3 linked regions of the Homo sapiens genome follow. The protein of the gene in region 1 purifies or fractionates together with the protein of each later gene. This does not show direct contact. Each region holds a gene or a part of one and is shown in the gene's direction. Other genes may lie near its edges. The genes, in order: ANKH, LRIG1 and ABCD4.

What was found.
Region 2: the proteins of ANKH (region 1) and LRIG1 purify together in Homo sapiens (affinity purification with mass spectrometry; one large-scale study listed by BioGRID and IntAct). This does not show direct contact.
Region 3: the proteins of ANKH (region 1) and ABCD4 purify together in Homo sapiens (co-immunoprecipitation; one large-scale study listed by IntAct). This does not show direct contact.

Annotation. Positions count from the first base shown.
Region 1 is NC_000005.10:14,865,279-14,868,778, reverse strand, and holds part of ANKH (mineralization regulator ANKH), read left to right. Parts: intron 1-3,500. UniProt on the Homo sapiens protein: Transports adenosine triphosphate (ATP) and possibly other nucleoside triphosphates (NTPs) from cytosol to the extracellular space. Mainly regulates their levels locally in peripheral tissues while playing a minor systemic role.
Region 2 is NC_000003.12:66,406,920-66,410,643, reverse strand, and holds part of LRIG1 (leucine-rich repeats and immunoglobulin-like domains protein 1 isoform 1 precursor), read left to right. Parts: intron 1-152; exon of another isoform or gene 153-171; intron 172-371; coding exon 372-515; intron 516-3,152; coding exon 3,153-3,296; intron 3,297-3,724. UniProt on the Homo sapiens protein: Acts as a feedback negative regulator of signaling by receptor tyrosine kinases, through a mechanism that involves enhancement of receptor ubiquitination and accelerated intracellular degradation.
Region 3 is NC_000014.9:74,296,343-74,300,066, reverse strand, and holds part of ABCD4 (lysosomal cobalamin transporter ABCD4), read left to right. Parts: intron 1-391; coding exon 392-519; intron 520-1,997; coding exon 1,998-2,137; intron 2,138-3,617; coding exon 3,618-3,724. UniProt on the Homo sapiens protein: Lysosomal membrane protein that transports cobalamin (Vitamin B12) from the lysosomal lumen to the cytosol in an ATP-dependent manner. Targeted by LMBRD1 lysosomal chaperone from the endoplasmic reticulum to the lysosomal membrane.

The DNA of each region.
Region 1 (3,500 bases):
CTTGAGCTCAGGAGTTCAAAACCAGCCTGGGCAACATAGTGAAACCTCGTCTCTATTAAAAAAAAAAAAAGGCCAGGTGCTATAGCTCACACCTGTAATCCCGGCACTTTGGGAGGTGAGGTGGATGGATCACTTGAGGTCAGGAGTTCGAGACCAGCCTGGCCAACATGATGAAATTCTATCTCTACTAAAAAATACAAACAAACAAAAAATTAGCCAGGCATGGTATTGCATGCCTGTAATCCTAGCTACTCAGGAGGCTGAGGTGGGAGAATTGCATTGAACCCCAGGAGGCAGGGGTTGCAGTAAGCCAAGACTGTACCACTGCACCCTCCAGCCTGGGCGACAGAGCAAGACTCCGTCTAAAAAAAAAAAAAAAAAGAAATGCAAAATTAAAAAATAAAACCTCTCATGAGCTTTTAAGTTCCTGGCTTGTCAAGAACAAAACAATAGCAAAATTATGTTAAATGTTTCTTAGATGAGGTGTTTTATGATGATAAATATCACAGTTTATGGTTTCTTTTAAAAACATGTACAGATCTTTTGAAATGGAAATCCAGCTATGTATAAGATTCCACTGAAAGTTAAATAAGCTGCACATACGTGACCATGTAAAGGAATTACCTGTTAATGACCCCAGAGCCAGTGTGTGTGGAGGGGCTAGGAAAGAGCCTGTAACAGTCTCTCCAGAAACTTCTGATATTCTCCATGAACATTACCTGTTGTATATAGATTTCTTAGTCATTTTATAGCTCAGTCAGGGAGGAAACCAAATCTTATGGACTATTTCCTCTAACAAAACTAGCAAAACCTATTATCACATTTTTTCAATTTTGGTAGTGGCAGTAATTTGAGGTGGTGGGGGGAGCGTTTGAATTTTGTACTAAAAAAAGCTCTATGGAATAAAATGATCTGCTTTTAATATTAAACATAGGCACCATAGAAAATGGGAACACCTTTGGGAGGCCGAGGCGGGTGGATCATGAGGTCAGGAGATCGAGACCATCCTGGCTAACAAGGTGAAACCCCGTCTCTACTAAAAATACAAAAAATTAGCCAGGCGCGGTGGCGGGTGCCTGTAGTCCCAGCTACTCGGGAGGCTGAGGCAGGAGAATGGCGTGAACCCGGGAAGCGGAGCTTGCAGTGAGCCGAGATTGCGCCACTGCAGTCCGCAGTCCGGCCTGGGCGACAGAGCGAGACTCCGTCTCAAAAAAAAAAAGAAAATGGGAACACATCTCCTTTTGCAGAAACTGAAGAAACGTTTATATTATAGAGCCCTATAGGTATATAAAATACTTTACAATCATTGTATATCTAGAATTATTTTATCTCAATTTTTACAGATTGAGAATCAAAAGTATTAATCACGTACATTGATTGAGCACCTAGTATGTGCCTGTATCTCAGCATATGATATATATGAGGAAACAATGAGAGGCCTACGCTTGTTAAGGTACTTGTTCAAGATGACACGGGTAGTAAATGGCAGAGCTAAGGTTCAAGCCCATACCCACCTGGTCTTTATAAATTTAGGAATAAGTTCTAGCTTTTCTGATTCCCAGACTAGGTCTAAATTTAATCTTAGCTGTCGTATATTGAATTTTTTTTTTTTTTTTTTTTTTTGAGACTGAGTCTCACTTGTTGCCCAGGCTAGAGTACAGTGGTGTGATCTTGGCTCAATGCAGCCACCATTTCCCAGGCTCAAGCGATTCTCCTGCCTCAGTCCCCCGAGTAGCGGGGACTACAGGCGTGCACCACCACCCCCGGCTAATTTTTGTATATTTTGTAGAGACGGGGTTTCACCATGTTGCCCAGGCTGGTCTTCAACTCCTGAGCTCACGTGATCCACCTACCTTGGCCTTCCAAAACGTGAGCCACCACATCTGGCCTGTATATTGAATTTTAAAAACTCAACAGATGTAGGATGATTAAAAGGAGGGCTTCCAGGAAAGGGATATTATGACCAAGAAGTTCATTTTAAGAAAAGCTTAATTACCCAGATAATTAAGTCAACACTGTATCTTATTTTAACAAGGTTGGCATAGCTTTTGGTCAAGGGGGGATGAAAGAAACAACTGATACCTCACAATAAAGTTATTTAGAAGTCACTTGGTCTTTGTCATTAAAACAATACAGATTGCTAAGGAAAGGAGCATGTTGAGATAGTTTTTAAAAAATATATTTCTTTTAAAGTATCTGCAAATGTCCATTTGATCTCACCATGTCCAAAGAATTGTTATTCTGTTTAAATTTGGTTCAGAGTCCCCAATTTCCTTAAAAGCCAAATTCACCAAATGACATAGAACAAATTAGTGAGCTTTTTAAAAAGGTACTCAGTATTACTTAAAATATTAAGGGCAACGTTGCTGTGAAGACCTTGAAGGAGAAAAGAAAGTTGAAATTGTTCTCACTTAAGAAATGTGTTCTGCCTAGGGCCAGGTGATCTACTCTTTCATGCTCAAAGGAGAAATGGTGCCAGGCGCGGTGGCTCACGCCTGTAATCCCAGCACTTTGGGAGGCCAAGGCAGGTGGATCACCTGAGGTCAGGAGTTCAAGAGCAGCCTGGCCAACATGAAGAAACCCCGTCTCTACTAAAAATACAAAATTAGCGGGGCATGATGGCAGGCACCTGTAATCCCAGCTACTTGGGAGGCTGAGGCAGGAGAATCTTTTGAACCTGGGAGGCGGAGGTTGCAGTGAGCTGAGACCGCACTGAATACCTCAATACCTTTCAGATACTTTAGATATTTCAAATTGCCTTGTATGATTCACTGAATTTGGTTGGGTCTAATATGATAATTCAAAGACCAGAGCTGTTTATCTGTGAATGGAGAGTTTTGCACATGAATTGTGACAATTCCTGGAATAAGATGTGTAATAGGAGTGTTCATATATCTTCAGCCCTTTCTATTTAGGAAACCTAGAGTTAGGCTTCCACAGTATAAGAGGGTTCCAAATTATTAATATCACAAGATGGACAAAAAGAGAAGCCCAGGAAAAATAGCTTGGAGAAGTGCACCCTCTCCACACCTCCTCCCAAAGTATAACAAAAGTATTTCATTCGATTAGGAGGAATAGGAATAAAAAGGACAGATGCAGTATATGGCACTGGCTTCAACAGGGAAGAGACTCTTCATCAAAAGTCACTGAGCAATGGAGAGGACCTCCTTTGACAGTGCTTAAGAGCTTGCCTTAAGGAACATGACAGGGATCTGTTGTAAGATCCACTTCCTAAAGTGCTTAAAGAAAGAAATGGAAATCTCAAGCTAAGGCTCCGAGTCACTGTGAGGGAGACTTTCCCCCTCCAGTCTATTCTGTAGTAACAGAATAAATTTCAAAATAATTATTTTTCCTAATTATAAATAGAAGTAATATCAGCTAATTGTTTAAAGTTTGGTAAATATTTTTTAAATGTGAAAAAATGCCTCTAATTTCACTCCTAAAACTCATTTAACAATTTGGGTATCTCCTGCCAATTTATTATTTTATTTAATTTATTA
Region 2 (3,724 bases), on another chromosome or scaffold:
CTGGTCTCGAACTCCCGAGCTCAAGCGATCCTCCTTCTTCGGCCTCCCCAAGTACTGGATGGGCATAAGCCGCCACACCCAGCCCTGGTTCACTTTTACTCAGCCAAAAAAGTCACTTCTAGGAAGCTCCCTCTTGCCCTATGAACACTCGAGTCGGCCTTGGCATGTGCTGTCATCCATTTTGATTTGCCTGTCTTCTCCCAGCCCCTACTCACATGCACATGTGTGCGACTAGACTCCACAGTTCTGTCGTGCACTGTTCTAGCCTTGGTGTGACCGCAGTGTCAGGTACAGCGTGGCTGCTCATTTGCTGTCTGTCCAGTGAAGGGAGTGAAAGCTCCTCTTCATCCTGTGCATGGCTGTCATTGCAGGCACCTGGAGTACAACAGCCTGGTAGAAGTGAACAGCGGCTCGCTCTACGGCCTCACGGCCCTGCATCAGCTCCACCTCAGCAACAATTCCATCGCTCGCATTCACCGCAAGGGCTGGAGCTTCTGCCAGAAGCTGCATGAGTTGTAAGTGTCCTCGGCTCTGGGCTGTGGCAGTGTTTTTAGACACTGCTTGGAGGTGAAAGTGCTAGGCCTGGTTCGTTCCACCACACAGTGGCCTCGGGGAGGGCTCAGAGACAGGCCAGTAGCCCTGTTCCCAAACCAGCCAGGCCCAGGGTGGAACCCTCAGCGATTTGAGCCCCAGTCCCTTCCTCATCTCCCCTTCACTTCCTCTGCATTTGGATTAGCAGGGGCTCCAGGAGTAGCAGCTAGGTCCCTGCAGGGAGCCTTGGCCCCCAAGGTCCTGTTGGGTTTGGAGACAGTTCCAGGGGTAGAAAGTTCCTGGGGAAGGGCAGCTATGGCAGAGTGCTCACAGGAGCCATTTTGAGAGTGACTGTGTGTTAATGGCCACACCAAATAGCATGTGCTTCTTCAGTGAGGGGGTCATTTGGGCTCAAACAGAGACAGTGAAACGCTGACTGTGGATGAATTTGTGTCCTCGGAGTCGCCACCTTCCTTCCTGTAGATGAGCTGCCCAGGTTCTTGGCCCCTTCCCTTTCTCTGTTTTGCACCGCAGTGGCCTGCTGGCAGAGGCTCCTGTGCAGTCGTGTGCGTGCTTAGTTCAGAGATGTGTGGTGTGGTCCTCTTGCTCCTTTTGGAGATTTCCAGACAGGGGTCCCAGGTTGAGACTGAGAACTGAGCTTGTCTTGCCCAAAGTTCTGAGATTAGTAGTGACAGACTGTCGCCTGGGTAGCGATGGGCAGTGGCCCTGGCCACCCCATCATGTCAGGGTGGGGTTACTGGACAGTGAACGCAGCATTCCTAAGGACTCAGAGAACATCTTTACAAGTCTATAGTTTGTGTTTTCACTGTTCTTTCCATTTGATATGCTCCAGTTTAGTCTACTGTGTTTCTTTATTTTTCACAAGAGTTGGGTGGGTTTTTTTGTTTTGTTTTGTTTTTTTCTTCCTTTTCTAGGCTTGGCTGTTGGAAAAAATTCACCCACTGAAGTGAATGATTGTTAAGAGTGCCAAGCCTCAGTCTGTCCTGTCTCTCTCTTGACCTCACCAGGCAAACTCAAGGGGATGCGTGAATCTAATGTGGATTCTTGCAGCTGGTGTTTGTGTCTGGTCTTCTGTGTTCTCCTCTCTCTCCCTGTCCTTCCTTCCCTCCTCCTCCCCCCCTCCCCCCACCACACACACACACACACACACACACACACACACACACACACACACACACTGACTTGGAGTTTATATTTTGGTGACTCCATCATTATCTAATGCAAAACACAGTGGTCCTGCCTCTTTCCTAACTTTTCTTGGATTCTGTGAGTGTTAACCCTTTGGTTTCAGCTTCCTACGCTTCAGGGCCTGCAGTTGTGCATTCCATGTGGTGCTGGATGGCTCCTTTCAGGCTCTGTAGTCAAGCTGTGACCCCACCAGGGGACTCCTGGTTTTGTTGGTCAGGGCCGGGAGGTGTGGGAAGCAAGAGAGGTCTTTTAAGTCCCCGAAGCCTGAGCCAGTCCAATTCTTAAAGTGAGGGGCCATCCTCTGACTCACCAGTGTATCGTGGCCCCAGGGATGGCATGCTGTCTTCTGCGGGGTCCGGGATCCCCTCTCTAGCTGGTGGAAGGCATGAAGCCCTCTTCCATGCCCTCTAGAAGGGGCAGCAAAGATCACAGAAGTGCGCTTGAGCAGTCCTAGCAGTTTGCACCATATCCAGGTAACCTCAGAGGCAGATTTGGGATTGCTTCCCAGCATGTGTTTCCCACCCCTCCTTTAAGCTAAATTCTTTAATTGCAGGTGAGGATATAATTTTGATCTCCTGCCAGGTCTGTTTAACTGACAGACACCCTGACTTATTTGTCCAGGAGGGAAAGAATGCTGCTCCTAGCTGCCTTTAAAAGCTCATTAATCTTCTCTGAGTTTATTTTCCATCTTCCTATCCCTGCCCCAGCCCCAATTTTTCAACGATAGATGACCAATATGTCACGTAAGCAACCCAGAGGTGCAGGAGTGCTGGGAGGAAGCTTTGATTCTGAGGTTCGGGCAAAGCATGTGCTTTTACCGCCTGCAGTAGGGGATCATGCTCTGAGGTCCACGTGGATGGGGGCAGGGAGGCCTGAGCAGGAGCCTCCTGCCCTGGGGGAGTTGCCCCACTAAGGCATGAGGCACAGGTGTGGTTGTCCCACGCAGGGGCTAGTGGTGCCCTCTGCTGGCAGATGCAGGGAGTGTGACTGGGGCTCCCTGGCTTGCTGCGGGGTCATCTCCAGAATCCCAGGCTTCTGCTATGAGAGAGGTCTTTTGTAGCCTGAATCAGGAGCTGCCTTGGACAGCATGAAGGCGCTGGAGCTTGAGAGTTGTTGTGTGTCATGACCTCGTGTGTAGTCTTCACAGTTTAACAGCCACCCTGGCCCCTGTGACCTATGCACCCATTCTACGAGTCAGACTAGTGTGTTGGGCACTGATGAGTTTCTAGCTGCATGGCCACTTTTACCCCCAGGATTCTGTGGGTGTGGGTGTGTGTGTGCACGCACGCGCGTGCGTGTGCATCTGTGTCATTTCCCACTGAAACCCAGCTGACTGTGGCCCAATTTCCGGTGGGGTGGGGTTGGGGGGCAACCACACTAGATGGTGACATTGCTGCCCTCCCTTTCCTCAGGGTCCTGTCCTTCAACAACCTGACACGGCTGGACGAGGAGAGCCTGGCCGAGCTGAGCAGCCTGAGTGTCCTGCGTCTCAGCCACAATTCCATCAGCCACATTGCGGAGGGTGCCTTCAAGGGACTCAGGAGCCTGCGAGTCTTGTACGTCTCCCACTACTGACAGGATAAAGGGGTCCCCAGTGGGGAGAGCAGAATAGAGCAAACCATCTGCTTTGTTGAACTCCATTTGCGTTGGCTTCGAGTCAGAATTGGATCCAAAGCTGGCTTGCTCTATGTGCAGAGTCTCAAACTTTTATGTAATCAACTGAAAAAGAACTGGTTAAGCAGAAAAATCTCTCATTTCCCCAGGATGGTGCCTAGAGAGGGATGGCAGCTCCTAAAAAGTAGTTGTTCTCAAGCAGTGATGCCCACGTTGTGCTGGACAGGATGCTGGCTCCTAGTGTTGGAAAAAGCTTCCCCACGCTGAGCGCCTGGTGCAGCCTCCAGTTCGGCAGCCGTGGGTCAGTCTTTCCCATCTTGAGTCTTCAGCTGCAACTTCCAAGTCCTGAATATTTTTTCTCTAAACCATG
Region 3 (3,724 bases), on another chromosome or scaffold:
TTTGAGACAGAGTTTCTCTCTTGTTGCCCAGGCTGGAGTGCAGTGACATAATCTCAGCTCACTGCAACCTCTGCCTCCCTGGTTCAAGTGATTCTCCTGCCTTCGCCTCCTGAGTAGCTGGGATTACAAGCACCCACCACCACGCCCGACTAAACTTTGTATTTTTCAGTAAAGACAGGGTTTCACCATCTTGGCCAGGCTGATCTCGAACTCATGACCTCAGGTGATACACCCGCCTCAGCCTCCCAAAGTGCTGGGATTACAGGCGTGAGCCACCGCGCCCGGCCCCTTTTCATCTCTTTGGGGTGCTGATGAGGCAGGGACTCAGGAAGAAGCCTCCCTTCTTTTTAACCCCTCATCACTGATTTCTTACTCCTCTCCCTCCTTTCAGAGCAATTTGTGATCTACCAGGTTGGCTTGATCCCCAGTCAGTACTATGGGGTCCTGGGAAACAAAGACTTGGAAGGGTTTAAGACTCTGACATTCCTGGCTGTCATGCTCATTGTTCTGAACTCCACGGTAAGATCTTTCCCTCTCTCTGTGTCTCTCGTCCTCTCCAGTCCAGTGTGACCGTAATGCCTAGTGGAACTTAGCCTCCAGGAAGCAGGAAGCAAGCTGTGGGGGTGTGTTTCCTCCCTTTTCTGGGAACTAAAGGGATAGTTGCCTTTATTAAGCACGTTGATCTTGCTATTGGCCCACGTGGGACTGATTCCTCAGATGTTTCCACTCCTGGGCCCAGGCCACAGGTTCTGGTTTAATTCAGCATTTAGCAGAACTGATCATTGCCCCTTTCCTTCCTAGAACTCTTATTTCCGGCAGCTCATTAAAACGGCTCAGCAGCCAGAGCTGCTGCTCCTCCTCTGCGGGACCGAGGCTGTGACTCACCCTGGCACCATGTCACACCTCCCAGCCTTTGAACAGTGCTTTCTTGCAGAATGGCCTCCTCCCCTACCCCTCATTCAGTAGGGGGGCTACCACCTGCTCACTCTTCGTCATCCCTCCGTTGTCACCTCTTTCAAGTCTTTCTCAGCTTTCTCCTTTGTGTCTCCTCCACCAAACTCTGCCCTTTTTCTGTACTTAACGAATTCCTTGAGTTTACCTCGCTGTAACACTCCTCACACGCTTGTAATTGTTTTCTGGCTAAACTGTGAGCTCATAATGTCCCTAGTGCTTAGCACATAGGTGCCCTGGAAATGGTAAATGATGAGACTCAGGGCTGTACCAGAACTCAAGCCTAATGCTGTCTGCCAGGCTGTGCCACCTGTTTTCTTGGGGAAGCCACTGCTCATCGTACCATGGCCACTTTTGTTGGGTCTTCGGTCAGTAAGCACCTATGCATACAAATCTCTGTCCCAAGCTTGGGGGACAAAGGAGTAAGAACATAAATGGAATCGACAATATGGTCTCCAATCTTCAGAAGCTCATCTACTCTCAAAATAAGACAGTGTAGAAAGAGGGTCTTGCCTCTGGTAAGCCCTTTAATATTTGGTGAAGGAGGCTGGGTACAGTGGCTCACGCCTGTAATCCCAGCACTTTGAGAGGCCGAGGCGGGCGGATCACCTGAGGTCGGGAGTTCCAGACCAGCCTGACCAAGATGGAGAAACCCCGTCTCTACTAAAAATACAAAATTAGCTGGGCGTGGTGGTGCATGCCTGTAATCCCAGCTACTCGGGAGGCTGAGGCAGGAGAATCGCTTGAAACTGGGAGGCGGAGGTTGTGGTGAGCCAAGATCGCGCCATTGCACTCCAGCCTGGGCAACAAGAGTAAAACTCCATCTCAGAGAAAAAAAATTTGGTGAAGGAATGAACACGTGAGTGAGTGAGGAAGGGAAAGTCCCATGACTCGATGATTTAAAAAAGAAAAGTGCTGAGTGGACGGAGTAATCAGAGTCAGAGTGGGCTGGGATGGGTCAGCGGAGGCTCTTGCGAGCCTTGAGCTTTGAGCTGAGATTTTCAGGAAGCCATCTCTCCCTTCCCCTTGCTTCCCCCACTGCACAGCTGAAGAGCTTTGATCAGTTCACCTGCAACCTGCTGTATGTGAGCTGGAGGAAGGACCTCACTGAGCACCTTCACCGCCTCTACTTCCGGGGCCGTGCGTACTACACCCTCAACGTGCTGCGGGATGACATCGATAACCCGTAGGCGCCCCAACTCAGTCCTTTCTACACTCTGTGTGGTCCTTTCCTTCTGGCCTAGCCCTGGAGACTGCTGGTGGCAGACACCAAGGAGATCATCTGCAGTCGTTTTCAAATGCTGCTGCCCAGAGTCATGGGGGAGGGTGCCCTGCAGAGGACTCCTGGAGAAGCTGCAGGGCTGTGAATAGGCAGCTAAAAAGAAGAAGCCTGCCAGGTGCAGTGGCATGCACCTGTAGTCCCAACAACTCAGGAGGCTGAGGCAGGAGGATCACTTGAGCCCAGGAGTAGTGCACCGTGAGCACACTTGGGAATAGCCACTGTACTCTAGCCTGGGCAACATAGCAGAAACCCCCATCTCTTAAAAAAAAGAAAAATGTTAGGAGCAGCTTTCTTTTGTCCTTTTCATACTTTATATCTTAGTCTTCCAGTAAGAAGACTAAGGGGTTTCTTTAGAGGGTTCTAAAGAAAATGTCCTTGCTAGAAAAACCAGCTCTTAGATTTTCATCAGTAAAAAAAATTACCACTATCCAGGACTCAGTCTAGGATTCACATCTCCATTCTATCACCACTCAGGTTATAACTCTTAAAGTCACCAAGCCCCAGGTTCCCCTTCTGTAAAATGAGGACAATAATAGTTCCTATCTCAAAGGGTGTAGTGAGGATGAAATATCATTCATGTAATGCACATGTACAGTGCTTGACACATAGCAAGTGTTTCAGTGTAAGTTAGCTATTGTTATTTTACAGATGAGGAAGCTGAAGCCCAGAGATTGCAAGTGACTTGCCCAAGGTCACGTCACTCATTGGGAATAGGAATCAGTATGGCCCTAGTGGTGAGATGAGACATAGGGGGTCTCCTTCACACCCATCCCCTCACTCACCACCTTCCTAGCAAGCACTTTGTTGGTTGGGGTACCTCTCAGCTCAAGCTTAGCTTTGGTGCAAAGATGCGTGGGAGGCTGCTGCTGCTGCCTAACTTCTAGGCCTCTTTCTGATGGCTATGGCTTCCATCCTGCCTCTGCCCCCTGAGTAGCTGGGACTACAGGTGTGCCTCACAGCCTGGAGCTTTCACAGCCAGATAACTAAAGGGGCCAGGCTAGGGCTTATATAAGAGAAATTTGGGAGGATTGAGATAAAGGGGATAGTCTTCTTGATCATCCAAAACAGCTCATCTACCTTCAAGTTTTTCTTTGGCTCTGCTCAGAGCTGGCTCAGGCCCCTGGGTACTGGACCTTTCAGTTCCCACTTTTTCAGGGGATTAACTAAGGCACCGTAAGATGCAACTCTCTAGAACCCTGTTTAAAGGCCCTGGGATTTAGTTGCCCCTAGGAAACCAGCCTTGTCTGGTTCCCTCTTCCCATAGGGTCAGTGTTCACAGCACTGTGAGGCAAGGTCAAGAGCAGAGGTGATGTGAAAGTTTCTTGTTCTCTCTACCTTTGGGCCCATCTCCCTGGGTCCAGCTACTCTGTGTCATTGGCTCCAGGGACCAGCGCATCAGCCAGGACGTGGAGCGATTCTGCCGGCAGCTCAGCAGCATGGCCAGCAAGCTCATCATCTCCCCGTTCACCCTCGTCTACTACACTTACCAGT